2 separate regions of the Homo sapiens genome follow, and region 1 is linked to region 2. The links come from fine-mapping of genetic effects on gene expression. A gene starts in region 2. The other region holds a variant in brackets. All regions are shown on one strand. Distances are between the middles of the regions.

Evidence for each region. PIP is the estimated chance that this variant, and not a neighbour inherited with it, causes the effect.
Region 1: its variant is fine-mapped to the expression of SIAH2 in whole blood (TOPMed, PIP 0.99).

The regions. Positions count from the first base shown.
Region 1 is chr3:150,722,866-150,737,960 of GRCh38, forward strand. It overlaps LOC101928105 (a long non-coding RNA gene), which reads right to left. Exons shown (of 3, transcript NR_121657.1): 2 at 13,477-13,650; 3 at 11,606-11,999. Among named protein-coding and RNA genes, the nearest start is that of ERICH6, 26 kb to the left of the region's middle. RefSeq lists enhancers at 2,289-2,790, 2,791-3,290, 4,535-5,034 and cis regulatory regions at 6,800-7,192, 10,441-11,132. The variant G/A (reference allele first, on the strand shown) is at 6,963.
Region 2 is chr3:150,757,671-150,772,765 of GRCh38, forward strand. SIAH2 (siah E3 ubiquitin protein ligase 2) reads right to left here and starts at 5,499. Exons shown (of 2, transcript NM_005067.7): 1 at 4,763-5,499. The coding sequence starts at 5,179. It overlaps SIAH2-AS1 (SIAH2 and CLRN1 antisense RNA 1), which reads left to right and starts at 4,267. Exons shown (of 3, transcript NR_187306.1): 1 at 4,267-4,310; 2 at 4,669-4,737; 3 at 10,875-11,005. It overlaps LOC124909447 (a long non-coding RNA gene), which reads right to left and starts at 12,961. Exons shown (of 2, transcript XR_007096132.1): 1 at 12,894-12,961; 2 at 9,846-9,970. RefSeq lists enhancers at 1,760-1,819, 3,054-3,153, 4,970-5,916, 6,435-6,494 and a silencer at 5,025-5,924.

The sequences.
Region 1 (15,095 bases), 35 kb before region 2:
GTCACCAACAGTGACAGTGCCCTTGATCAGATGAAGAGTTTTAATTAAACGTCACACCAGAACTCCATAATCTTGTCTCAGTCATGTCATCGCTGCTCAAAACATTTGGTGAACTCTGTTTGGTGATCCAGGCTATGACTCATATAAGAAAATAAATCTTAATCTCTCATCTTGCCTTTGATCTTTGACTGTTCAAGAAAATCTAATTTACCACAAAAGGACAAAGACAGCAACCATGGCAGATTTTCATATAGGTGTGCCACCAGAGTCAGGAGGAGATAGGGAAATGCTTCCCAGACTGTTCTGAATAGTGGCAAATCAGAGAATAATTCCTCTAAGTCTTTTTGGAAATTAGAATGGAACTTCCCTATCATCTGAAGACTCCTTATGGATTGAACAAGGAGGGCCCTCTTGACTGGTTTGTCTTTCTTTCTTTTTCTTTCTTTCTCTTTCTTTCTTTCTTTCTTTCTTTCTTTCTTTCTTTCTTTCTTTCTTTCTTTCTTTCTTTCTTTCTTTCCTTCTCTCCTTCCTTCTTTCCTTCCTTCCTTTCTTCCTTCCTTCCTTCCTATCTTCTTTCTCTTTCTCTCTCTCTCTCCCCCTGCTTCCTTTTCTTTTCTTTTCTCTTCTCTTTTTTCTTTCTCTTTTCTTTTCTTTCCAGGGTCTATGCTATGCTGCCTAGGCTGGTCTCAAATTTCTGGACTCAAGCAATCCTCCTGCCTTGGTTTCCCAAAGTGCTAGGATTACAGGCATGAGCCACCTTGACTGGTTTCTTCCTTAAAGGTTCCTAAGCTTCGCCTTTTTTTTTTTTATCTTAAAGATGGACACAGAGATCTAAACATTAAAACAATTTATTTATTGGAGTTTCCTCATAGAAGGGTAAGAGAGACAGTTGCACCTGACTGGGTGCTTAGTATTTCTATAGAGTGGCTTAAGCATGGCAACTGATTAATGAGAGGAGCAGGAGGTGACTTGCATTGTTTTTACTAAGATAATATTTTGTTTTGTTTTGTTTTGTTTTTTTTGGAGAATGGCAGATTGGGTTTATTGAGGGAGGCGACTGAAAGGAACTCAAATCACCCCCTTGGTACTGCTATTTATATTACTGCATTGTGTGGAAATCCTTAGTGGCAAATAAAGCTTTGGGCTGATGTTTAAGGCCCTCTACAATATAATCTTAACGCGACTTTTCTAGCTTTAACTTCGCCTACTCTTACACAGACCTGAATGGATGCTGCACATCCTGTTGGCCCAGCTGCAACTTCAGCCACTGCTGTAGCAACCAGTTTTGTGCAGGTGTGGCTGATGGCTCTGGCTTTGGCTGCCTGACGTTTCCTGGATCCTGCAGCGTGGCACAGGACACATTTGCCTCCTGGTTGCCTTCTGGACTTGCAGGGTACTTACCGTGATAGGGGGTACCCTTTGATGAGCTGGGGATGGGAACTGGAGGGTGAAGACCTCCCTCTTCTCTCTCTCAGTGGACAATTCTGAGGTCCTTCTACACAGTGCCTCAGAAGCCCCTAGCGGGATTGAGCCTCAGTTACCTAAGGCAGTGACCGGCGGATAATGCACCTGTGCTGGCTTTCTTTCCTCCCCTACTCCCCTCTTCAGTCCTTCAGTCTGTTGCCTGGAATCACTTTCCTAAATAAATGTCTTTTTTTTTTTTTTTTTTTTTTTTTTTTAGAGGGAGCCTCGCTCTGTTGCCCAGGCTGGAGTGCAGTGGTGTGATCTCGGCTCCCTGCAACCTCTGCCTCCTGGGTTCAAGCGATTCTCCTGCCTCAGCCTCCTGAGTAGCTGGGATTACAGGCACATGTCACCTCGCCTGGCTAATTTTTGTATTTTTAGTAGAGATGGGGGTTTCACCATGTAGTATACACCATAAGAATGTGTATAACTTTGCCAGGCTGGTCTCGAGCTCCTGACCTCAGGTGATCTGCCCACCTTGGCCTCTGAAAGTGCTGGGATTACAGGTGAGAGCCACCATGCCCAGCATTTCCTAAATAAACTTCATATAAGCTTTGTCTCAGGCTCTGCTTGCTTTGGGGAAACAACAGTCACCACCCTATTTGCTGTTTTTTGATGATGTTCCTTGCTCTTCATCTATTCAGTTCTTTAATACTTGCCTGGGGAACATCTAGTGTGCTCCTGGTCTGGGAAAGGGCCCTAAAATATAAAACGGAATCAGTCACAGGCCTTGCTCTTGAGGAGTTCTTGGTTTAAGAGAGAGAGAGAACAGACAGCTTAAAAAAAAAAAAAGTCAGTGTATCACAAGGTGAATGCTGTTCCAGAGAACCAGGAAGGAAGAACACAGGAGACAGGACAGCTGATCTGGCTTGGGGTATCTGAGGAGGTTTTCTCAGGAGCGTCTTTTAAAGGATGAACAGGAAGTAGTTTACAGGAACAAGGTGGGAAAAGACCTTCTGGGCTGAGAGACTAGTCTGGGCAGAGACACAGAGTCGTGAAAGAACTCGGTATGTTTGTGAACTGTGGGAAGTTCAGGGAGACTGGAGCGGAGGGTGCCTTAGGAATGTGCTATAGAGGAGTCTGTCAAGACCTGGGTGCCTGCTACACTCCGAGAGGTCAGCGAACGGGCCCTCACTGGCTTCTTTTGCGTTGATGGCCTGGTCTGTATTTCTGCACTAGGTGGCCCTCTCATTGTCGCCATGACTGCTGGCCAGTGGACACCTGCAGGAATGGACTTGGGGTAGGCCTGAGGCCCCAGTCTGCTGGGGTGCTCCTGGGAAACTGAGTCTCGCCTCGCCTAGTCTCATGGTAATGTGCAAGGGTTGTTTTGCATCAGCTTCTTGCCACTGGGGCGAGCCAGCAAGCAGCCAGAGCTTCCAGCACAGCCGGAAGGGGCTGGGAGGGTGTATCCACTTCCCCACCCACTAGAAGAATGTGTCTACCTTTGCCTGGGAGCAGGCTGTGCAATCTCCTGCTCGTGTGTGTCTCTGTTTACTTTGCCATGAAACAATCCTGTGTGGGTCTGCTGGTGTCTTCCCTCCCATTGACCCCTATATCTCGTCGGGTAACCATGCATCTCCTGACTCAGGGAAAAGACAGTGACTTTTTAAATATTTATTAATTAATTAATTAATTTTTTTTTTTTTTTAGAGACAGGTTCTTGCTCTGTCACCCAGGCTGGAAGTTCAGTGGCATGATCATAGCTCACCGCAGCCTTGGACTCCTGGACACAGTGATCCTTCCACCTCCTGAGTAGCTGGGACTATAGGCACACACCACTATGCCCAGTTACTTTTGTTTTGTAGAGACAGGGTCTCGCTATATTGCCCAGGCTGGTCTTGAACTCCTGGCCTCAAGTGATCCCTGCCTCAGCCTCCCAAAATGTTGGGATGACAGGTGGGAGCCACTGCACCCTGCTGAGACCAGTGACTTTTAAAGTCGACTAGTGGCTGTCCGAATCAAGTGGTCCCCTCTTTGGCAGTAGTTGGTAAGGAGTAGAAATCAAAGGATACACAGAGAAGATGCTAGGCAGAAGTAGTGAGGATTGGAGGAGAGCAGAGAGAAGCAGGGTGCTGGCAGCAGGAGAAGCAGACTGAATGTGGCTGAGTAACACCGATGTGCCAACACCAGCGGCTAGGAGATAGTGAGGCTTCAGACCCCAGTGGGGCCTGGTGAGATTTCCATTTCTGAACTACACTCCAGAGTGCCAGAAACCTGCTGGTGTGGCTGGTCCTGTGCTCCAGGAAGTGAAAATAGACACGCACTTTCCTATTCCTGTACATATCCTAACACGGAGTAGCGTCAGCAGAGACACTGCCTGGCCATGCTACTTCCCACCATGTAAACTTGAGTAAGTAACTGAGCACTCTTTCTCAGGTTCCTCACTTGTAAACTGGGCTGTTACTGGTGTCTGCTTCATAGGGTTGTTTTGATGCTTGAATGAGTTAATGGGCATAAGATGTGGAGAAGGGCCTGCTGGTGCATATGAAGTACTCAGTAAGCAGGTAGCGGTCTGGGTCTGGGCAGGACACCCAAATTGGGTAACTGAGGAGAGGCTGAGAGACTATTTACAAAAGTATAGGTCAGATGAAGGGACAAAGGATGGTGGAACACCATGGGCTATAACTGGCTGAGAAGTCTTTAGTACTCCTAGGCCTGATGAGGCGAAGGGAGGAAGTAGTTATCAGACACCCAGCAGCCTCAAAACAGGGTGACAGGGCAGGAACTGTGGGGGTCTGGACAAGAGTGCAGCTGGGCCAACCTGGCCCTACAGGGCAGGAGTGGAAAGCATGCATACTCTTAAGACTTCTCCCTAACTCTGATCTCCTGCCCATGATACCCAAAGGCCAATCTGATTGGAGGCCAAAGGATGAGGCTGTTAGGTGGTTACAAAACGCAGTGGTCAGCCTGCCAGGCCCAGAGCAGTTGGTGAGGCATGGAGCAGGGATCTAGGAGCCACTGCAGCCTCTCTAGCACAAATGTCGCCAGTGTTGGCTGCAGTATTGTTATTACAATAGAGGCCTTTCACTTGAGGCCTTGACCGAGTTGCCATTCCTTGCAAACAAAAGAGCCTTACAGAGGCCGGGCACGGTGGCTCATGCCCGAAATCCCAGCTCTTTTGGAGGCCGAGGTGGGTGGATCACATGAGGTCAGGAGTTCGAGACCAGCCTGGCCAACATGGTGAGACCTCGTCTGTACTAAAAATACAAAAATTAGCCAGGCGTTGTCGCAGGCACCTGTAATCCCAGCTACTAGGGAAGCTGAGGCAGGAGAATCACTTGAACCCAGGAGGCGGAGGTTGCAGTGAGCTAATGCCACTGCACTCCAGCGTGGGCGACAAGAGCAAGGCTTCATCACCCCCCCGCCCCGAAAAAAAAAAGACTAACAGAGAAGAGCAACGGGAGCTCTGCAGGGAGACCTAGGGGACCACGCCATTCCCGTGGTCATCATCAGGTACTCTGTTTACCAGCTCTACTCTGTTTACCAGTCTCCCGCACTAGCTGGGAAAAGCTCTCTGGGGCAGGGCAGAAGTCTTTTCCTCTTTATAACCAGAGTGTCCAGCAGAACCAGGGACTTGTCACTGAGGGCTCTGTTGAGGTTTAAGGAACCCCTAAGAACCTGCTGCTCCAGCAGATAGGAGAGGGAAGCACTTAGGGCCTTAGGGGAGAACGCTGAGTCAGGGAACAGTGTGTGCTGCTGTTGCGTGTGTGTGCTTGTGAACATTCACATTTTATACACGTCAGAGAGAAAGTTGAAGGCATTGCCTGTTTTGGGCTGAGGAGGCCAGGCCCCAGATGAGGCTTCTCCCTGGAGCCCCTCTTTTGTCAGCTCCCATTTGTGCCAGGCCCTGGGCTTCCCTGGATCTCACAACTCATTGCAACCCTGTGGAGTTGGCAGCGTGCCTGTTTTATGGACAAGGACGCTGAGGCCAATGAATTCACAAAGGTAGCGGTAATTAGAAGTGTCTGAATTTGAGCCCAGATATGGCTTGAAAGCCTGAGTTCTTTTATTTTTTGAGGGGAAGTCTTGCTCTGTCGCCCAGGCTGGAGTACAGTGGCATGTTCTCGGCTCACTGCAACCTCCGCCTCCTGGGTTCAAGCAATTCTCCTGCCTCAGCGTCCTGGGTAGCTGGGATTACAGGTGCCTGCCACCACGCCCAGCTAATTTTTGTATTTTTAGTAGAGATGGGGTTTTGCCATGTTGGTCAGGCTGGTCTCAAACTCCTGACCTCAAGTGATCTGCCCACCTCTGCCTCCCAAAGTGTTGGGATTACAGGCGTGAGCCACCGTGCCTAGCCAGCCTGAGTTCTTAATCATTGAGCTAGTGTTTCCCAGTGGAGATACTGCAGGTCATCATTTGAATTTTTGTCACTTCTGTGTATTTCCTGTTTATCATTTACTTAACATTTTTCTCGAAATTGTCTTTTTTGGTACTTTAAACAAGTTTACTTGAAAAGGAAACTGTATCACTACCATAAATGGAGAGCTAGAATCACCTACTGTAAATAGAAGGTATCATAAATATAAACACAAAGGAATTCTTGGTCTCCAGCGTGGCCAACTCCAAATTCTAGAGCAGAATGATTTTGAAGTAACTCCATTCCTTTTAATTGCTTCGTTGCCTTGAGAGGCCTCTCTCTCCTCTATCTGTCTGGGCTCTAAGATGTGTAAAATTGGATTTGATCAGATTGTAGCCAGAGGTGTGCTGGTAAATGTTTAACAACTGGTGCTCCAGAAATTAAATTTTTTTTTAACACATGCAAGTGTCAGATAAATCTTACTGATATAAAGGAATTGTAGCACCCAATGTACAAATAATAAGAAATTATACAGTATTCTAAACTGTAAATTCCATATAGCTTATTGATTCCCTCAGAATGTTTTCATTGCTTTTTGCTGAACCGTTGTATCTGAACCTTGTATTTTGCTGAACCCTTGGCATATATTGTATGCCAACCTGTGGTTGATATTGACAAACAAGCAATTATGACATAAATGCTGGTTGGTACCAGTAAGATTAAAATGAAGAAGCCTTAACTTTCAGATGTTTGTCAAAATTTCACTGGTTCATCAGTGTCATCAATGATGTGAGTGACTTCTTTATTGATTTGGGCAGTAGTTTTTGACTGCTAGAAAAATATTTCTTCAACTTTTTTTTCTATTTGCAATGTAATGGTTCCAAGTATGACATAATTCTAAGTTAAAGCTCTATTATTAACATTTTCGTCATCATTTTCTTAAGTCTAGACAACAACTAATAAATCAAGCCCCAATTTGTTGCTTTTGCCACTTTCTAAGTACTAAATACTGCTACTGTTAAATATATACTGTTAAATATAATACTGTTAAATATAACTTATTTAATTATAAATCTAGAATTTAATTTTTAATAATAGCTGTGTTTATCAACTGGCTCTCAAGATTCCTAAACATTTGACTGTTGCAAGTTGGTATGTGCCGGCTCCTGTGTGCCACTGATTATGGCCCTTATCTTGAAACCAG[G/A]CAAGCTGCATATGTTCCCCTTGTGGAGTCACCATCCAGAATAATTTCTACTCTTTTTAGACATGAACACGCCGCTGTGCTCTGCTCCAATAAAATAGCAAAGTTTTTCTCTCCTCGCACTTTCTCACCTCAGCTCCTACTTTCCTTCCCCGGACTCCGCTCCCTGGATATTCCTTGAACACACGAGACATGCACACCTCAGGGCCTTTGGACTTGTTATTTCCCCTGCCTAGAATGTTTTTCCTCCAATTAGCTGCATGTTTCATTCCCTCACCTCCGTCAAGCATTTGCTCAAATATCACTCTGTTTATAACTGCGATCCCTCCTCTCCCCTACTCCCCTACTGACCATCCCTTCTACCTGCTTTATTTTTCTCCATAGCATTGACTATCTTCAATGTATTATACTGTATAAAATCTTTGCATATATTTTGTTTATTGCCTTCTTCTCTCCATGACAATGTAAGCAACACAAAGGCTAGAGGTTTTTTGCTTGTTTGTTTTATTTTGTTTTGAAGACAGGGTCTCACTCTGTCACCCAGGCTGGAGTTGCAGTGGTGAAATCTCAGCTCATTGCAACCTCCACCTCCTGGGTTCAAGCAATTCTTGTGCCTCAGCCTCCTGAGTAGCTGGGACTACAGGCTTGTACCACCACGCTTGGCTAATTTTTTTTTGTAGTTTTAGTTGAGACTGGGTTTCACCATGTTGGCCAGTCTGGTCTCAAACTCCTGGCTTCAAGTGACCTGCCAGCCTTGGCCTGCCAGAATGCTGTGATTACAGGTATGAGCCACCATGCCCAGCCAAGGGCTAGAGTTTTTGTACATTTTGCTGGATCCTTTGTGTATGGAACAGTACCTGGCATAGTGTAGGGAAGCAGTATGTATATATGTGTGTTGGATAAATGAATGAATATATAATATGTAATATATAATAGAAACATTCTTACATTGCCTCTGATGAAATGCTTATGTCTCTTTTAATCTATAGATTCTCCTTCTATCTCTTTTGCTTTCTTGAAATTATTTATTGAAGAACCCAGGTTCCCCATAGCAGAGTTTCCTATAGTCTCATTGCAGCCCAAGAATATAATCTGCTCAGATTCAGATTTGATTTTCCTTTTTACAAGACTGCTTCAAACCAACCAGGGAACTATTGGGGAAAAAACCCTGATGGCTTCATAGTTGATGGTGGTGATGGGTACATCTATAACACAAAGGACAGTGTCTGTCTGTCATGTAAATTTTTATATATATATACACACACACACACATGCATGAGGCAGGGATCCAACTTCATTCTTTTGCATGTGAATATCCAGTTGTCCCATTTGTTGAAACAATTATTCTTTCTCCATTGAATTATCTTGACACTCTTGTCTAAAAAAGGGAAGATTTTAAATTAGATTTGTGTGACCAGATTTGCTTCTTTCATAACTTATTTTGGTGGAAACATTGAGAATTCTAGTCAACATCTATTCAGCTCCAGGGTAGAAAATCCATTCAAACTGGCTCAAGTTTGAATAACGGGGGCTCCTACTGCCTAGACTGTGGTCTTGAATCATTGTTTCACACTAAAGAAATCAAGGTTCCTTGAAGACATCGTTGATTACATGTTGAGTGCAGGAAAAGAACAAGATGAGCCTGGAACATCAGAGGCTATTTGTGATCATGTCAAAAGCACTCAGGAACCAAGCTGAATATGCATTTGTCAGGCCAAGATGGAATGATATGAGTATCAACAAGGATAATAATGGCAATGAATTGAAATACATAAAAAAGTTAAAATCCATGAATTCATAATGATATTCTTTTTTTTAAGAGACATAATGATTTTTAGTTTTTGAGACAGGGTCTTGCTCTGTCATCCAGGCTGGAGTGCAGTGGTGTGATCTCGGCTCACTGCAACCTCTGTCTCCCAGGTTCAAATGATTCTCCTGCCTCAGCCTCCCAAGTAGCTGGGACTACAGGCATGCACCACCACACCTGGCTAACTTTTGTATTTTTAGTGGAGACGAGGTTTCACCATTTTGGCCAGGCTGGTCTCGAACTCCTGACCTCAGATGATCTGCCTGCCTTGGCCTCCCAAAGTGCTGGGATTACAGGCATGAGCCACCATGCCTGGCCTGCCTGATATATTTTTAAAATGTTACTTCATTGGTTTTATTTTTGGAGGATGCTAGAAAACTACCTCATTGTTTTGAAAACTGATAAAGGAAAATAATCAGGCATTTATGTTATCTTTCCCTTGTAAAATGTACCTTACGGTAAACCAATAGTTGAAAAGAGGAAGTTTGTCACTATAGAAGTTTTCCAGTTCATAAAAAAGGAATGATTTGAAAGATCATTCTGTAATGCCTCACAAGTGAATATGAGCCATCAATGGCCGATAATATCACTAAAAGAGACAGACAGAGTTAGAGGAAGAGAGCAACAGCCATTGTCCTTTGTGTTATAGACATACACATCACTACCATCACCTATGAAGCAGTCTTCTTTTTTTTCCTCCCCAACAGTTCCCTGGTTGGTTTGAAGCAGTCTTATAAAAAGAAAAATCAAATCTGAATCTGATAAAATGATATTCTGGGGTTGCAATGAGACTATAGGAAACTCTGCTATAGGAACCCTGGGTTTTTCAATAAATAACTTCAAGAAAGGAGAAGAGATGGAGGGAGAATCTGTAGATTAAAAAAGACATAAGCATTTTATCAGTAGCAATGTAAGGATCTTATATATGTATCCCAGTTCAAACAGACTGTATATCAACCAGAGAAATGTGACCTCTGACTGGATATTTGATTATATTAAAATTTATAATTTTTATAGATATAAAAACAGTATTGTGAGTATGTTTCAAAGTCCTAATCTTTAGATATTCTATACTGAAACATATACAGATGAAATGATATGATGCCTGGGATTTGATTCAAAGAAATCCACACGTGGATGTAGGTGAGGGTATAGATGCAGGACAGCTGGCCAAGAGTTGATAATGGTTGAAGTTGGTGATAACACATCGAATTCGTTATATTATTCTCCTTCCTTTTGAAAATTTACTAATAAAATGTTTTTTTAAAAGTTATACATCTTGGCTGGGTGCAGTGGTTCACGCCTGTAATCTCAGCAGTTTGGGAGGCTGAGGCGGGTGGATTGCTTGAGGTCAGGAGTTCAAGATCACCCTGGCCAACATGGTGAAACCCTGTATTTACTAAAAATACAAAAATTAGCCGGGCATGGTGGCAGGTGCCTGTAATTCCAGCTACTCGGAGGCTGAGGCAGGAGAATCGCTTGAACCCGGGAGGCGGAGGTTGCAGTGAGCTAAGATGGCACCACTGCACCCCAGCCTGGGCAACAGAGAGAGACTCCATCTCAAAAAAAAAAAAAAAGTTATACATCTTGACAGCAATAATCATAAAATTAAGCAAAATTAGAAGGAGGGAGAAACTTTGTGTGTTACTTTCTTCAATTTTGGTGGTGGGAGTGAATAAATATGGTCTAAAATTGAAAAAAAAAGTGATAAGAAGAATTAATTGTGAAGGCACAGCAGGCTGTCTCCAAGATGCCTCAAAGCAGGAAATGGAGTGTTTCTGGGCTCCCTGGGGAGGGATTAGGACCTGGCAGGGTGGGCGGCAGTGGCTGCTCCCTCCACCCCTAGGGGCCTCTTGCTATCAAGGCTTTTCCTTTGCTAGTGTGCTGACTTTCCAGGGCTGTGTGACTCTGGTGCACACCACTGACTGTCTTTGACTCTCTCAAGAGAATCTGACTGGTGGCTGCTCAGCCAATGAACCGCTGGCCTGGGTAAGGTCTTATCAGCTGTGGCCTGCATTACAAGTTTGTGGGTGTGTGAATTAGTGGGGGGTTTGCATGGGGTGTTCCAGGAACTATGGGCAGGGCAAATTCTCTAGAAGAAGTAGTTTTTATTGTGGACAGGGTTCGTCCTGAAATTTAGCTAGTATGAGGATGGGTTAAAGGATAGATTAGAATTAGGGACCAGACAAGACACTGCTGAACTTTGATATTCACTCGGCACGTTCTACGTGTCTGACCTTGTGTGGGTGTCAGGAACGCGGGAACAAAGGAAGTGTGAGAGAAGAATAGCCCTGAGAAGTGGATGGGAGGTGGACAAGGCTGGACTTAGGCATTGAGTGGTTTGGTCTTGATCCAGGAGAGGCTGATCTCTTGGCACATCCTCCTAACTACCTCAGCCTTGCAAAAACCTACCCAACACCCAAGGCCCAATGCACGCGCTGCTTTCTCCCGGAAGCCTTTTCCAATCCTCTTTTGAACTCCATAGCAATTTGTACGTCCTTGTCTTAACTTGCTTTGCAAACATAGTTGATGTAGTTGTGGTTGCATATTTCATGCTACTGTAAGTTGCCTCTTTGTTTGATGCTTTCAGACTTCTGCTAGACTGTAAAGTCCATATCTGAGTCACTTTTGCAGGCAGCAGGGCTGTTGGAAGGGCTACATTCCTGAGTGTAAATCCCATTTTCACTGCTTACAAGCTGTGTGACTTTGGGCAAGTTACTTAGCCTCTCTGAGCCCCCACCTTCTTGTTTGTTAATGGGAGTGATAATACCCACCTCAAGGTGTTTTGTTTTGAAAATTAAACCATATCAAGGATATAAAGTACAGGACCAAGCACAGGGCAGTTGATTGGTGTGTATTGAATTGAGGAGGAATAACTCGGATCTTGAGGGATGAGCAGCATTAGCATAGTGGGCGAGATAAGGGAAAGGGAAGGGCATGCTCCAAGCTGTTCTCTTCAGTCCCTCCAGGGGAGGGGGCAGCGTGCGGGGCCACACTCTGGACAGGGCAGCTACTCCTCACATTGTCAGCAGAAGCCACTGCAGTTCTAGGACTCAGGCAGCCACACTCTTGTCCAGTGTAATGGAAACTGCCTTCTGAGCTGCATGCACCCTTACTTGATATCAATGTACCAGGGACTCGGATCTGTAACTAGAACAGCACTTACAGCTTGTCTCTCAGGGAAATGGTGTTGGATGGTCCTCAGGAATATTTCTTCCAGGTTTTCATGGAACCTAGAAAAACACCACAGCTTGCTAAGGTGTAAACCTCTCAGATGCCTGGGATGTTCTAGACTGAGCTGCAGCCAGTGCCTTTCTCCTGTTCAGGGCTGGATATGCACAGACGCCCTCACCAGGGCCTTCTAAACATAATTTGCTTCAACCCTTGCTTGTTGGCACAATTTTTTTCCCACCTCTCTCTATTTCAATAATGGCTGCTTCCTGACCATCTCTACTGCATAAGTAAGTAATCTGCCCTGGAAACTTGTCTTTCTGATTACTTTGCCCCCGCTGTGATTGCCTCCTTCTCCACATCATCCATTTCGCTCTCTCTTTTGGATCCTTCCCATTGGCACAGTGCCATGCTCTAGTGGCTCCAATTTTTAAAACACAAAAAAATCTTTCATTGATCCCACTATTCTCCTGCAGCAACTGCTTCATTTCTCTACGTCTTCTCTGCGGAACTTCTTAAAAGCCTTGTCTATAGCAACTTGTCTATAGCTCTATAGCTATAGCTCCTGCCTCCTCTCCTCACCCATGCCCTGTTCTCTCCCTCACCTGCTCTCCTCTGGGCTTCTGTCTTCTCCACTCCATGAGACTGCTCTTGACATCTTGCCATGACCTCGATTGTCTTCTCAGTGGCTAACTCCTCTGTTCTACTTGAGCCAGATTTTTTTCCTGGGGTTCTGTGATGCCGTACTGTCTAGGAGTTCCCCTCATCTTGATGGCCACTTCTTCTATCCACCCTCATTTCCAGGCTCTGGCTCCTCATGTGACCTCTAAAAGGTTGGCAGTCCCAGGAGATAGGCCTGAGTCCCACCCTCTTTTCTGCCTGTATGCACCTCCCTCCATTGCCCAAACCCCGGGGTCTTCTCACTTCCACCCCACAGCTTAAACACCATACATATAGTGATGGTGCACACATTTTGGTATTTCCATCCTGGCCTTTCCTCAGAGCTCCAAGCTCATACAAACAACTGTCTGGTTGATGTCTTCAGCCATGTGTCTCTCTAGATTTCTGCCCTATGCTGGCTCCTTCACTAGTCTCTGCCCCAATACATGGAACTTCTTACCCATTTACTCAGGATGAGAGCCTAGGAGTGATCATCCTTGATTCTCTCTTTTCCTTATTCCTATAATCATCACCCCTCTCCCACCCATCCAACTTTTTAGCAACTCCTGTTAACTCTACCTTGAAAACATAGCCCAAATATGCCCATTTCTGTTAATCTCTACCTTTGCTCACTCTGTCCAAGCCATAATTATCTTTCACTGGGTGAAATGCAATAGCTTCCAAAATGCTTCCATTCCTGCCCTTTATAATCATTGTTTTTGTTGTTTTGTTTTGTTTTAATTGAACAGCTACAGCTCTTTTTAAAAACCCGAATCCCATCATCCATGCTCCTTGAAACTTTCCAGTGGCCTCCCATTGTACCTGGAAAGAAAGCCAGACCCCTAGCTGGCCTCACAGGGCAAGGCTCTAGCTCCTTACCTGCCTCACCTCAAAGCATTTTCCCTGCTGGTTCTGCCTCAGGCCTCTGCACTTGCTGTTCCTTTCTTGCTGCAATGCTTCCCTCCAGGTGGTTTTTACATTCACTTGCATTCCTCAGCCTTCCCTGGTTATTCAATCTACAGTATTGGCAGGTGACATCACTTGTCTCAGCGGCTGTATGAGAAATACAAGAGAAAATGAGGCAGTGAGGTTGGACTGGGTCAGAGGTTCTCAACCCTGACTGTGTGCTGGTCCCTTCTGGGAAGCTTTAAAAAGCACACAGAAGCTCAGCCTTACTGCCAAGAATTCTAACTTAGGTCCTGGCATTCTTTAAAGTTCCCCACATGATTCCAAAGGACGTGTGGGGTGATAACCTTTGATCCAACCAGTGCTTCCCAAACTTGAACATGCATCCACATCACCTGCATACTGTGTTAAAATGCGGATTCTGGTCAGGAGGTCTGGGGTGGAGGCTGAGATGCTGCATTTCTGACAAGTTCCCAGGTGATGCTGATGCCGCTGGTGCACGGACCACACTTTAACTAGTGAGGGTCTGAACGATTTCTAGGTCTCCATCCCCTTCTAGCATGCCATGACAGTGGGGAAGGCAGTTCCAAAGCACAGGTGGTATGTTCTGTATTCACCAAGCATCCTGCACCCCTCCATCTTGTTCATCTTTATCTGTTACAAGTAAGCAATATTTCTGCTGATGGTCAAAATATGTGAAAGCCAAATAAGAATAATGATGGATCACGTGATATGGTGAAGGGGCATGGACTCCACGATGGGTTCATATTCCAATTCTGTTTCTTACCAGCTGTGTGAGTGTAGGCAAATTACTTAATCTCTCTGAGCCTTCATTTCCTCGACTCCAAAATGGGGATAATAAACACTGCTTATTTTATTGAGAGGATTAAATGGGTTAATACAGACAAAGCACTTTGCACACGATAGGTACCTAATGGATGGCAACTGCTGTGATCTTGGTGTACTTTGCAAATTGATCTAATCTTGTAATCCAATTGCTGCAGGTCACAGGAACCTTGATCTGTGCTTGCTGCAAGGATCATCAAACATAGAGCGGAGTCGGCCTTTGATCTGAATGTCAGGTGACTCCATGACATAAGAAATTTCAAGGCACAGAAACTTCAAACCAGCCTTAGTGACCTTGCCTGGAGGATGACAGGGGCAGAGAAACCCTTTGTTTCTTCCCTTCTCTGGATTGTTAGATTATCTCCCCATCTCTGTTCCCTGCCTACTTGCGTAATTTCCCCAGGGACTTTTGGTACAAAACCAGAAAACCTTAACTCTTAAAGTGTTGACTTCAATGCTGCTCTCACACTAGCCTGTTAGTAGTTATTTATTCATTCAGATATTAATTGGGTGCCTAGGTGCCAGGGACTTCATTGTCTCTATTACCCTGCAGGTTGTCAAGGGGAGGCAGGCGCTGAACAATAAAAAAAAATATGTAATCACAATTGTGGTGCCATGAAGGAAAAGAAATAGGGTGCACCGCAAGAGAATATTGAAGAGCTGTGATGCCAATGATTTTCATGTCAAAAGAGCCTCTGCCTATGTGTAGAATACATTGGAGCAGGCAGGAAGAAGGAGGACAAACA
Region 2 (15,095 bases):
GAGATATTTAACATAAAAAAAAAATCCAGGCTGGGCACGGTGGCTCACACTTGTAATCCCAGCACTTTGGGGGGCCGAGATAGGAGGATTGCTTGAGCTCAGGAGTATCAAGACCAGCCTGGGCAACATAGTGAGATGACATCTCTTAAAGGAAAAAAAAAAGATCCAGATTTCTGGCTTTTCTTGAAAAAAATCTAAAGGTCTGATATGCCTGTACCCACATCCCCAACCCCACCAATCAGCCAGAGGTGAGTAAAGGCTGCCTCTTGGGAGGTGGCACCTGTTCTCTGGCTCTCCACCATCTCCACTGCTCCTCCAGGTCTCCCTGACCCTGAGGCCATGAGTGCATCAAATACTTCTCTCCTCTCCTCTCCTCTCATTACATGGCCCTCCTCCCATTTAGAAAGTTTGTCTCCACTGAACTAGATGAGGCCAAGGGATTTTAAACTTTCAACTGTTTTGTCTAACCTTACTTGGTTTTATGTTATTTTTTATTTTTTTAAGGAACACAGACATTGTCACAATTCAACCACAGAGAAGACTTGTCCAGCTGAGGCTTTCAAATTCAATAATTATTTGGAGATATGCTACTAGAAACTTTCAGAGAGGACAAAGAAAAGGTATCATTACAGTGTAAGAAGGCTGGAGTGGATTAGCATTGCTCACAGTTGTAGAGAGAAATACTTGGCTGATATCAAAATACATCGTTGGATGGTAAAGTAGACTATGTTGTTGATATGAATGTGTCAACCTTCACTTCTCCCCCTAAACCCACACACTGAAGGGGTGAGTTTAAGTCTGGGCACAGGATGTCAAAAGTTCTCAGGCATGGAACAAGCCACAGAATGGATTAAAAAATACCCCAAGCGGAAGAAAGCCATACACTATTAGACATTCCATTTTTTTTTTTTTTTTTTTGACACAGAGTCTTGCTCTGTCACCCAGGCTGGAGTGCAGTGGCACAATCTCAGCTCACTGCAACCTCCACCTCCTGGGTTCAAGCGATTCTCCTGCCGCAGCCTCCTGAGTAGCTGGGATTACAGGTGCCTGCCACCACACCTGGCTATTTTTTTTTTTTTTTTTTTTAATGAGACTGAGTTTCACTCTTGTTGCCCAGGCTGGAATGCAATGACGTGATCTTGGCTCACTGCAACCTCTGCCTCCCGGGTTCAAGCAATTCTCCTGCCTCAGTCTCCTGAGTAGCTGATATTACAGGCATGTGCCACCATGCCCAGCTAACTTTTTTGTATTTTTAGTAGAAACGGGGTTTCTCCATGTTGGTCAGGCTGGTCTCAAACTCCTGACCTCAGGTGATCCACCCACCTCAGCCTCCCAAAGTGCTGGGATTACAGACGTGAGCCACTGCGCCTGGCCCTAATTTTTGTATTTTTAGTAGAGACAGGGTTTCACTATGTTGTCCAGGCTGGTCTCGAACTCCTGACCTCAGGTGATCTGCTCACCTCTGCCTCCCAAAGTGCTGGGATTACAGGCATGAGTCACCACACCCAAAGATCTGAGCTAATAATGCATCCGGTTCCCCATATCAAAGGTGCTGGCAACACTCTAGCCTTTAATTAATTACCCTAAACCTAAGTGGGATAGTTATTTGGCAATACATCCATTTTTTTGCCAACTGAAGCAGTCCAGAGCTGTGATGATACCCCACAAAATACTAGGTTTGTAGGTTTCCCCCACCCTCCCATCTTCCTACCCTACATGCCCTACAAAATTCCTGCCAATGAATTTCATAGTGAGTATGTATGTTGTCATTTTGGGATGGTCCCATAAGAGGCCCATCTGGTGAACTCATCCAACCAGACGGTTTTGTTACTGGTGTCAACCTTGAGTTATGATTCAGAATCTTGAGTATACACTCAGATTCGAAATCCCTACGTAGTAAGGTGTAGGACAAAACATCTGTGCCTTTGAGATGCAGGTGCTTGGACTGGTCCTCTTACTAGCTGTGTGATTTGACAAGTCACTTCACATTTAACCACTCTGTAGGCATGAGTTTCCTCATCTGAAAAAAAAAAAAGGCAAACTAGTAAAAGCTGACCCCTGCAAAGTAACTGGCAGATAGAGGGCATCCAATAACATTCCAGATAGCCTCCCTTCTTTTCATAGAATGCTAGAAGCTACAGGTCCTTAGAAGTCAAGCAGATTCATCTCTCATTTGTATAGATGAGGAAATCAAGGCCCTGGGAGGTGGTCTTTCAGGCAAACAGTGGCAGCTCTTGAGATGTGGGCTCTGGTACTTTATTCAACGTTGGTTTTTTTCACATGAGCCAGCCCATGAGAGATTCTGAGAGCAGGTGGGGACAGTAAAAAGGCAGTCCCATAATTTCTAGGAGCCTCAAACTGTAGGCCAAAGGGCTAGGTAAACAGATCTGCCTTGTTTTAAGTTTGATACAGGCCTTACGGCTCTCTGTTGTTTCTCATCCTCTACAACTAACACATCTTGGTTGGTCGCTGGGCCTATGTATACATTCAAGTTTGGTTTATCCAGACTAACTGGCTGAGCTGCCCTGCCAATAGTTTGGATTATTGATCAACCAAAGGTGAGGGACACACACCCCAGCTTTATACAACTCACACACATGCACACACAAAAGCATCCCCAAGATCACATCCTAAGCTTGGTTCTTGGTCTGCAGGGGAATAATTGGCCCTTTTAAATTTCAGCTTGCAAAGTAATAGCTTTACCCCACTGCATTCTTATAGAATAGAGACTCAGAAAACCACTGACATGTACAGAAAGGCTGAGAACCCCTGATTCCCAGAACTACTCTTCAAGGTTGATTTCAGTAGCCTGTTTCACGTTAGGAAAGAACGTATGCTTTCATAGGAACCAGAGTTCTAGATCCTGAAAGTGAAACTTCATGCTCCATATAGCATAACTGTTTCCTTCCCTTTCTCTTGGGAACAACACAATTCTATTATGGTTACATTTTAAAAACAAATTATGGATTACTGACTAATATCAAATGCTCATTTGTGAACTAAAACTCACCTAAAAGCCATTTCTTTTGTTAGCCGCTGCGCGTTTAAGGGAAAGTAAAGGGGTGAGAAAATGGCTCCCCAGAAATCCTATGGGGCATCCCCCACCCCTGCAATATATCTCAAGCATCAAATAGCCACTCTATGTTAACTACCACCAAACCTTTTCCAACCACTAGGTTGTCACCTTTTTCACAACCCTAAGACAACTATGCAAATACTTTATCTAAATTTTGAGAAACTGGGCTGAGTGAATTAGTAAGCACTATATGAGGAGGGGTTAACAGCAATTTATTAAGGTTGCCTGAAACACCCTAGTCCAAACACCGATTCAAACTCTTATTTAAATATGCTATTTTAAACCTGATTTGCAGCAGGGCAGCAGACCAAATTAAAGCACTCATTTTACTGACCTGAGTCCCAAGCCTGAATTCTCTGGTGGATTATTTTTAATTTAAAAATGAGCTCTTGTCCTATAAAATAAGCAGCACCAAGGAGAAATGCAAGACAGCTTAAATGGCCCAAGAGGCAGCGCAAGTTACTTTTACAAAAAAACTGGAAAGTATTAGTGACATTATCTCCACTTCTAATTTCAGAAAATGACTTTACAGTATACTTCTAGGTTATAACGTAGACAAGTATGTCTGTGAAACTGCTCCTGAAGGTTTCCACGTAATAGCTGCAGGTAAACAAATGTTATAATATGACCACACAATGCAATACTATGCAGCCATTTAAAATACAATGAAGTCGACTAGGTTTCAGGCATAGAGAAATATGTGTGATAATATGAATTTAAGAACAGCAAGTTGCAGATGCCATTTTTGGAGAAAAACTTACATCTATGTGTGGGTATTAAAAAACCTCCCTGACATACACTGACATCTATGATTCTATATTTAGCTGCGAGGGTGTATGTATATATAGTTTAAAAAGATACACACTAAACCTAACAATGGTGGGAAAGGAGGGGAGAGATCTTGGTCTTTCATTTTACTTCTTGTCTTGGTGGCTTGCATTTTTCGCAAGGGCATTGAAAACTTTTTACATTAAATAAAAAATGAAGTGATGAGCTTTAAACAACTGTAACAACAGCTCTTGAGTGCCCTTGTTAATTTCTTGATTGACTGTTTTCACCCCACTTAGTACAACAACGCAGCCACAACTCCTCAGTCCTTCCCAGTCTTTGGAAGGCTAGGAGAGAAAAAGGCGTGGCTTGCAGGGTTTTCTTCTAGCTAGAGGAAAACAGGCTGTAGGCGCCCTTTTTTTAGCTACAATCCCGAGAGCTCCCACGTGTCAGGGGTGCGCAGACGGTAGGCGCGGGGTGCAGGACTCCAATTATCAATTCAGCCGAGCCCAGCGCTGGTAAAGGGGGCGTTTAGCTCGCCCGTTTCCTCCCTCCTCAATCCCCACACAGTCAGTTTCTCGGTCCAAGTTTTACTGGTGCGGCCCAGCCCTACCGAGAGTACCCGAATACACGTCTGCAGAGGACGCGGGCATTGGGCCGGGTGAGCTACGATGTTCTAACGATCAGCAAATGCCAATTAATCTGTTAATTGTCTATTAACAATTATTACTCGGTAAATGTCAACCCAGACCTACACCCAAAGTGGGCTTGAGGGAGGGTGGACGAAGTGTAAACATTTTTTCTTTTTTTTTTTTAAATGAGAGATGCCGCCCGCCTCTCCGGGCCTGCGAGTGGGCTGGCGGATACCGGAGTCCCTGAGGTCACCGGCGGAGGTACGTGGGCTGTCCCTGGGCTTACCTTACAGGGAAACAGGACTGCCGAGGCCACCTTCTCCATAGCCAGGTTCCTGATGCTGGGCGTCAGGGCGCCCCTGCACGTCGGGCAGCAGCTCAACTTCTGGCGGCATTGGTTACACACCAGGTGCCCGGCCTGGCACTGCAGAATAGGAGGCAGGACATAGTCAAAGCAGACCGGACACTCGAAGAGCGAGGTCAGCTCGTGGTGCTGCGGGGACACCGGGCCGGCCCCGCCGCCGCCGCCGGGGCCCGAGATCACCGCCGCCGCGGCGGGCACCGCGGACGAGCCGGGGCCCGCAGCCGAGATGGTGGCGGCGGCCGGGGGCGCAGCCGGGGACGGAGTGTGCTGGGGCTGCGGCGGCGGCTGCTTGCTGCAGGGTTTATTAGCGCTGGGGCCGGTGGAGGACGGGCGGCTCATCGCGCTCCGAACCAACCATGGAACTGCGGGCGCCTGCCTGCCGCGGGGCCGCCCGGGTCAAGGCGGTGCGCGCCCCGCGGGCAGCGAGCTCCGAGGCAACGCCACGGCGCCCAGCCCAGGTCCGGGCGGCGGAGACGCTCGGCGCCCGGCAGGCGGAGGGCTGGACCGCGCTGATGCACTCCGCAGCCCCCGGCGTTCCGAGCACGCCTCCGCGTCGGACCCCGCGCGGTGCCCTCCTCCCGGCGGCGTCCCGGGCCCCGAACCCCAGCGGTGCGCAGAGCCCTGGCCCACCCGCTTCTGGAACAGCCGCTGACGCAAGCCCCGGGGGCGCGCGCGGACGTGACGCCTGGACACGTGTGCGGCCGCCCAGGCGCGCGGGGACTGGCAGAGCCACCCTGCGCCGGGGCGCTGGCTCCGCCCGGCTCCAGCTGGCAGCGCAGGGGGCCGCCTAGCGCCGGCGCTTCCTGCTCGGGCTGCGGGCCGGGCCTGCGCCAGTGAGCATGCCTGGCTCGCTGCAGCCCCGCGGGGTTGTCTTTTCTGGGTTGAGGAGGGGGGCTACTCTCGGGGAAGCGTCGCCGAAGTCCTCTGGCCACACCCCGGGGTGCCTGGCTGACGCGTCCCTCAGCTCAAACGAGAAAGGCAACTTCAGGCGGGGCGGGAGCGTGGACGGTGGGTGGGACCGGACGCGGGCGGGCAGGGGCGGGGCGCGGGCGCCCCTGCACTAGTCGGAAAAAACCGAGAGGTTTCTCTTCTCAGGGCTGAGTCACCAGCACGCAGGAGAAGAGGGCGAAGCGGCCACCCGCGTTCTGTGTTCGGAGTCAGGACGAGAAGCATTGGGTGGGAGCAGGGCGAGGGGCTCGAGTTGGGTCTGCAGCGGGCACAGGACCTAGTTTTGTACAGTTAACGGTGGGGTTGAGTAAAGAGGGGGGCGGTGGGGAGGATGTAAGCTCCCTTTATTCCTTTCCCAGCGGACCAGGAGGAAGCTTCGTTGAATTGAGCGCCCCTGGCTCGTATAGCAGGCCGAGGAGGGAGCTCATGGGCAGCGTTGGCTAAGAGTTCGAGATCATCTAGAAATGTCAGAAACGTAGGTTGGGTCGTGAGGTCTCTGAAGACAGTGGGTGAAACTCCAGTGTAAGGCGCTGCGTCCGCTTGGTAGAGAGCCGGCCGAAGTCCGAGTCTTTGTTGCGAGGCGTAGGGCCACCCTGCGCGCCCAGCAGAAGCGCTAGAGGGCACGGTTGCCCGGGGTGAACCGCATGTCCAAATGTAACTGTGTGCTCCGAGTTAAAATTGTTTTTCTGCAGACTTTGCTTGAGCCAACGATTCCGGAATTGGGGAAAGGGTTACCTTAGGTAGAAATCGGAAATTTATAGGAGACACAGAGGTAAGGACCAACTGTTAGGACTGAGTGAAAAATGGTTCCCTCCAACTGTAAAAGTGGAAAAAAAAATACCTATCTTATAGGTGGGGCAGTGAGGAGTAAATGAGTTTAATATATTTCAAGCTTTTAAAACAACCTCGCCCATCATAAGCACTGTTTAAACATTAGCTCTTATCTTTTAAAAATATTAGTGGATGTTTAAAATGAATGAATACAATTTGTCCAAGAAATATGGCGTAAGAGCCCAGAAGAAATAAAGTTTAATCTTACAAAGGGCTTCTGTAGAAAGAATACATGCATGGAATTGATGGAATTTGGTATAAATCTTGAAAAAACTTAATAGGTGTATTCAATCGTTCAGTAAATGTTTCCTGAGCATTTATCATGTGTCAGCTACTGTTGGAGCTCTGAGAATGGTTCTCATGCAGTTTACATTCTAGTAAGAGAGCAAGGCCCAATAACCAAGCACTCGTGGGAGAAGAAGGATTTCAGATACCACGGGGTGGGCAGGCATTATAGCAGGAGCTAAAAAGCACAGAGTGAAAGCATGTATTCTGGGATTGCATTGGGACTTGGAGGGGATATAACGGGAGTGTAGGGGTGTGGCGTTAGCACAAGGGGAGCCTCAACTGGCTTAATAAGACATTTACCTCAATGATAGGGGTAAACCACTGTAGGGTTTTGTTTGTTTTTTTAAGAACACACAACAACACTAGGTTTTGTAGGTTTTTGGAAGCTCTTTAGTAACATGGCTGAACCTGAGTTTTTGGATAGGTAGGGAGCATAAAATAATAACTAATGTTAATTGAGTGCCCACTGTATGTTGGGCATGGATAGTTTTAAGTATTTATCATAACTCTCTGTGATGAATACTACTGTTATCTCCATTTTACAGTTGAGGAAACCGAGACATAGGTTACTTTGCTCAAGATCACACAGCTGAGAATGTGGGAACACGCTAGGAGCCCTTCTTAACTACTAGTCTGTATGCCTCTAAATTATGCCTGATTCCTACTTACAGTCTTGTTAAACAGTTAAGATTAGCACACTCAACAGAGTCAGAAAACAGTTGTTCAGCCTATAATAAAGCACTAAATTTTGTGGGCAAACTTTACATAAACTCTTTCCTTAGCTGGTCTAGAGAGAAAAATTAAATCATGTTCTATTTATTTCATTTTCACCTTTTTATGACACAAAATATAAGTGATAACACAAAAATCACCTACTGTTTTACTGTTATTGGAGGAAATGTAATATTTTTCATTCTTAATTTAAAATCAAAGCATTTGGAATTTATTAATGGAACACATTTTCTTTCCTTCCACTTCTAGCCTCTCTGTGTGATGACCTCCATCCCCACGGCTTCTTACTAGCTCTCATTAGGAGACTGGAGTCCTCACCCTTGCCCCATTGACACGAGCTTTAAGTGTTCCAGCTAGATAGGCCCTGGTCATTCAGAAAACAATTTGGTTTGGGAGGTGTTGAAAGAAATAACAGGAAAAGCAATTCTCTGCAGAGAGAATTTGGTTTATTTTTCTAAAAATACAGCGAACCCATCCACTCTTACCCTGGCAGATGCCTCCCCTGGTATAGAGAAATTTCTTCTTTCTTCCTCCTTCACATCATTGCACACCTGATTAAGTCAACCAGGGTAATTAAAATACAAAAGCAAAACAAAAAAACTCTGGGCAGTTGCTGAAGGTAGGCAGGGGGAGAGTGGATAGGTCTGCTATGTGAGCCACATCAATGACCAGGCTGGTCTTCCCAGTCGCCTTTCTTCTTCCTCCTTCCTTGGTGACTTTTGAAACAAAGAAAGGTGACCTTTGCATACCGGGCACTATGAGCTAGAGCCTCCTCTTCCAGCGGGCAGTCCGCTCAGAGGTCGAATTTAGCGTGTACTCAAAATGTGTGCTGAGTTGAGTTGTTGGGAGGTTTATTTACCCTTTGGAGTGTCGCTGCTGCTTCTTGGCCTGTTTAGTGAGTGACTTTGTGGTCTGGGGGAGCAGGGTCCAGCCTTTTGTTATCTCCTGATTCATGACTCATTTACCACATCTACTGTATGAGAGGTTGGTCTCATTCGCCCACCTACTGAGTCCCAGATTGCATATGTCAAGCAGGACACCTCTCCTTAACCCATCTGCTCTATGCTAAGCTTGAAAGACTAGGGGTGTACTGAGTAGCCTTTTCTTTCCTTAAAATAGCAGGGTGAGTCTTAAAAAAAACACCTCACAGGTGAGTTCCTAATTTCACTAAACTGCTGAGCACAGTGAGAAATGCTCCAGCTAGGCAGACAAGCTCTTGCCCTTTTTTCTGTAACTTACAAATTGTGTGGTTTTGCAAATCAGGCAACTTCTGCCATCAGGCAAATGTGCATTTGCAGAGCAAATTGTGGTTGGCTTTTTAGAGATGACTCAGGTATGCATTGGAGCTTGCTGCATGGAAATTCCTCATCAGGGGAAGCTTGTGGGAAATCTGGAGGTGATGTAAGGCCCCCTGGTAATTATAGTAGGAACTTTTAACTTCATCTGTTTCTGGGGTAATTTCCAAATGCTCAAACTTCTTTTGAATAATTGTAGGTCTCTTAATTCAAATCTTTTTTTTTTTTTTTGAGACAGGGTCTCACTCTGTCACCTAGGCTTAATGCAGTGGCTGGATCATGGCTGACTGCAGCCTCAACCTCCCAGGCTCAAAGGATCCTCCTGAGTAGCTGGGACTACAGGCACGTGCCATCACGCCCTGCTAGTTTTTTAGTTTTTGTAGAGAAGAGGTCTCACTGTGTTGCCGAGGCTGGCCTCAAACTCCTATACTCAAGTACTCCTAATTCAAGCATTTTTTTGAACAACCATCATGGACTTAGCACTGTGTACTAAGAGCAGTTCTATGTATTTGCATTATTTTTGTATCCACACTTAGCTAATTAGTGCTCACCCTGTACCAGGGAGTGTTCCAAGTACTTTACATATTTTAATTCTCTTAATTCTCACAATGTCTTTTATAGGGTAGATCTTTATAGATGACAAAACAGGTACAGAGAGGCCAAGAGAGTTGTAGGAAGTCATCATTAAGAAGGCTCCCAGGGATCCCTCCTCCTGGTGTCGCCCAATATGTAACACCTTTCCTGTGAATGAGGGCTGATCCTGCTTTAAGTGAACAGAATATGGTCAAAGTGATAGAATGTCACTTCTGAGATTAGGTTAAAAAAGACTATGAATTCTGTCTTACTGTCCCTCCGTTCCTCTCGCTTGCTGTCTTAGCTCGAGCTGCTATAATAAAATATCATAAACTGGGTGGTTTAAATAACAAACATTTATTTCTCACAGTTGTGGAGGACGGGGAGACCAAGGTCAAGGTGCCACAGGTGTCTAGCGATGGCTTGCTTCCTGGTTTGTAGATGGCAGCCTTCTCACTGTGTCCTTACGTAGCAGAGATAGGAAGGAAGCTCCCTCAGGACTCTTCTAAGGATACCAACCCTCTCCATGAGGGCTACACCCTTAGCACCTCCTGTAATCCTGATTACCTCCCAAAGACCCTGCCTGCTAATATCATCACATTAGGGAGTACAGTTTCAATATGTGAATTTTGAGGGGACACAAGTATTCAGTCTGTAACACTCTCTGAGCCCTCTCTGTGGATGAAGCCAGCTACCATGTTGGGAGTAGCTCTGCTAAACGGTCCACGTGGCAAGGAACTGATGTCTCTGGCCAACAGCTAGTGAGAACCCTGGGCTTGCCAACAGTGAGTGAGTTTGGAAGTGGATTCTCTCAGCCGAGCCTTGTGATGATTGCAACCCTGGCTCACAAGTGATTGTGCCTGTGACACCTTGAACTAGAGGACTCAGCTGAGTTGAACACAGAAACTGTGAGATAATGAATATGTGCTGTTTTTATTTTTATCTTTATTTTTAGAGATAGGGTCTTACTATGTTGCCCAGGCTGGAGTGCGGTGGCCATTCTCAGACACAATCATAGTGCATTACAGCCTGGAACTCCCAGGCTGAAGCAATCCTCCTGCCTCCGCCTCCCAAGTTGCTGGGACTACAGGTGTGTGCCACTGCACCTGGCTTCAGTGTTTGTTGTTTTAAGCCATGAAGTTTTGGGATCATTTGTTACTCAGCAATATATAACTAATACACCTGTCCCAGGTCACAAGGCTTATATGTAAAATGATTTTTTATTATAATGCTATTTAAATATAAGGAAACAAATATAGGAATATTATTTTTGTTATTTACAGCTATAGAAACAAAAAAATTGAACACCAACAAAACCAGAATTAATGTTCTTATTTCTTATTTTTATGTAAATCCATATTTTTCAGATGATAATTTGATGTGATAGAAGATGTGCGAAAATGAAATCATCATTTAGTTTGGAAACAACCTCAGTGTCCATCAATAAGAAAAAGAACTATGGAAAGCCATCCTATAAAACCCTCTGCAATTTAGAAAAGTTCTCCAAGACAATTTGTTACATGAAAAAAGCACACTGTGGCTGGGCACAGTGGCTCACGCCTGAAATCCCAGCACTTAGCGAGGCTGAAGCGGGCAGATCGCTTGAGGTCAGGAGTTTGAGACCAACCTGGCCAACATGGTGAAACCCTGTCTCTACTAAAATTACAAAAATCAGCTGGGCCTAGTGGTGGGCACTTGTAGTCCCAGCTACTTGGGAGGCTGAGGCAAGGAGAATCACTTGAAGCCAGGAGGCAGAAGTTGCAGTGAGCCTAGATTGTGCCACAGCACTCCAGCCTGGGCGACAGAGCGAGAGTCCGTCTCAAAAAACAAACAAACAAACAAAAAACACTGAAGCCAAAAAACCCAAAATGATTCCATTTCTGTAGAAAATACCGTGCAAGGCAAAATGACTATATGTTTACAAGGGCATAGAAAGGTCTGGAAGAAGACAGTGAACTGACGGCAGCAGCTGCCTCCAGGGAGGGGGAATGTGAATGGATATGCAGTATGGAAAACATACATACTTCCTATATTTCTGGAGTTTATTTCTTTTTTCTTCTCTTGTTCTTTTTTGTTTGTACAATGAGAATTTATTCATGTGTTTCGTGTGTTATTTTTTAAAAAGTGTGTTGTCCTTGCCTTTCTGGGGGTTATTTTAGTGAAGGATTTATTTAGCTGCAGGGTTGGTGCCAAAATGGGTGATAAAGACTAGCCAGCCAGAAAAGGTGGGCATTATACTGCTGAGAAAGGAACTAGGAGCTTCAGTCAGGTCTTTGGGTCTGAGAGGTGACTTGCTGAAATTAATATTAAATTTAAATTAATATTAAATATTAAATTTAAGAAGAGTAACCCAAAGGCAGTATGTGAGTATAACTTGGAGATCCCAGAAAGAAGGAAATAGGTTGGAGGATCTAGTGCTCCAAGAGGGGCTTCCTGGGTCGAGTAGAGATGAAGGTTATGAGCCAGGTTGTGGCCACTGGTCAGCTGGCTAAGTGCAAAGATTTATTCAGTCAATAGTGTCATATTTGGAGGCCATGGATAATATCAAGCCCAGGCTTGATTTTTGGAGAGATAGTAGCCTGGTAGGGGAATAACATTAATTATAAAACCCTTACACAATGCTCACTGGATATCAGACACTCTTTTTTTTTTCTTTTCTTTTTTTTTTTTTTTTTGAGATGGAGTTTCACTCTTGTTGCCCAGGCTGGAGTGCAATGGTGTGATCTAGGCTCACCACAACCTCCACCTCTCGAGTTCAAGCGATTCTCCTGCCTCAGCCTCCTGAGTAGCTGGGATTACAGGCATGAGCCACCATGCGCTGCTAATTTTTTATCTTTAGTAGAGACAGGGTTTCTCCATGTTGATCAGGCTGGTCTCAAACTCCTAACATCAGGTGATCCACCCACCTCGGCCTCCCAAAGTGCTGGGATTACAGGCGTGAGCCACTGTGCCCGGCCCCCAGACACTCTTTTAAGCACATGGCATTTAATCCTTATTAGAACGCTCTAAGGCATGTAGTCTATTAATCCCCTTTAAGCGATGAACAAACCTCCAAGAGGAGGTTTAATCCCTTGTCCTAGGTCACATGCTGATAAGTGACAGAAACATGATTTGGATCCAGGCTGTTTTAACTCCAGTGACTGTGCTCTTAACCATTTGGCTGTCCTGCCAGACATCATATGGAAAATCTAATACAGTGTGATACGTGTATTATGGAGATGGGAAAGGAGAGGAGGGTGAAGTTCAGCACTTCCTGGGCAAGTGTGAGGAAGACATCAAGAAAAAGCAAGAGTAGGAATGTGACAACCAAAGAAGAGGGTAAAGACTGCAGTCCAGAGAGAGGGCAGCGTATACCCGAAGGTACAGAGCTCCTGAAACTTTCCTACCTTGGGGAGTCTTCTGTCCTCTCTCCTCTAGGAACCATCCTTGGATCCCTGCTGGCCTCCTTTCTGAACCCGCTGTTGAGGCAGAGTTGCATATACAGCATTTCTCCTAGGACTGTTTGTTCTTAGATCTCTATCCCTTAGTGAGAAGTGAAGAAAGGCAGAGGGGAGAGAGTCCGGAATAATCTCCTTATTCTCCATCCCCACATCCCTAAGTCTGATCTGAGATTCCCCCAAAGAGCCTCGTCCACGCCAGCCTAACCCAACAGACAGTGTGGATCACTGAGAACCAGCAAAATTGACATAACCTTGAGGCCTCAAATAATACATTCCTTTCCTTTGACATCAGTTTTGTCAGATTAAAAATCCAATAACAGACTGTCATTGAGTCCAAGAAAAGAGATGGTAATAAAAGGGAGAATCTGACTCCATAATGGAAAGCAGGTGATTTTTAAAATTGGTTCCTCCAGCTGTCTATGCTACAGAAATTCCAAGAAAAAGTAGAAAAGCTGCTCCTTCCCCTTCTGTCTTCTCCGACTTGGTTGTGGCCCCGTTACTGCCCTGTTTGTCTTGCTTCGACTCCAGGAGGTGTCCTTATGTCTCCCTCCCTCCAGCTTAGCCAAATTCTGTGCGTCCTGCACACCTAGCTCACCACGCCATCCCTGCTGCCCCTGCCTTCACCAAGGGCCTACACAAGTCACCTAGGGACTCTGCCTTCCACCACCTCACCAGCCTCTCCCTCCTCCAGCCCCTGTTTCACTGTCTCCACAGCATAAACATAAATAATTCTGGCAAATGAATAGCTGATCTACCGTGTAATGAGTGCTATAGCATTGAGTAATAAGATGCAAACCATTTACCTTATTGGTGCATTCATCAAGTGTGAAAATATTTACTGTATGCCCAGCCTTGGGCTAGGTCCATTGTAAATTCCTTCGAATAAGATGAAACTTATTTCAGACTACTTCAGGGGGTCTCATGGAAAACAGGGGTGGGCAGTGTCCACAGGCCTGAGACCCCTAGAATCAGGAGCTGCAAACCTCCAGTAAACAGGCAACTTGTGCTCTCCAATTATTTGTCATAGAGTTTATTTAACCCTTCCCCTTTCTGCAAACTGGCTCTTACTGCTTTCCAGAGCCCAAGGTCAAAGGTAGCCAGCCTGCAGATTTTGAGTTTATCATCCTGTGTTCCAGCTGCCTCTCCTGAGGGATGAGGCACTGCCAGATCTCAGATTTAAGCCAAATCTCAGAAGAGAGAATCTGACTGGACAGCTTAGGTCACGTGACCATTCCCAGTCCATTAAGCTAAGGCCACACAGACAGGCTCACTGGGTGGAAACATGGCTGCCACTCGTCTGCCCTTGTGGGTGGGTGGGAGGAATTCTGACAAGAGCAGTTTGGGGCTGGCCAGATACTCCAAAAGTTGTCTGTTATGTGTGGTTGGTTGGTTGGTTTTTTAAGACTGGGTTTCACTCAGTTGCCCAGTCTGGAGTGCAGTGGCATGATATGTAGCTTACTGTAACTCGAACTCCTGGACTTAAGTGATTCTCCGGCCTCTGTCTCTTGAGTAGCTGGTACCATGGGCACCCGCCACCACACTAGGCTGATTTTTTATTTTTTGTAGAGACAAGGTCTGGCTATGTTGCCCACATTAGTGTCGAACTCCTGGGCTCAAGTGATCCTCCTGCTTCAGCCTCCCAAAATGCTGGGATTACAGGCATAAGCCATGGCACCCAGCCTATTATGTGTTTTAAGGAAAGACATGACCTCTGGCTTCTCAGCACTTAAGCCCCGTTGGGGAAATTAAATGGTAAGTTGAGGTTATTTCAAATGAATGCAAAATCTTTGATTTTGTGGGAAGAATTTAGAGTTTATGATGGACGTATTGATCTTGACTTTAAGGGATCATACGCCTTTGAGTTTTAGAGAGAATGCTTATTTCAAATAAGAATAGAAGGATCATAGGTTCCTAAAAGGAATGCATGAGGGCAGGAGACGGTCTTCAAAGTGGATTCCATTTTGAGTGCTGAGAGGTGAGATTAGGTGGAAAAGTGGGAACATTCATCAAAAGGATTTGAACAACAAAGACCTAAGTTTAGACTTGGCCTTAACAACAGGGAATTCGGATGGCTAAAATGGAAAATGGGTGTGTTCAGGAGTCACCCAGACTTGGTGATTGTTATTTTTGAGACAGGATCTTGTTGTG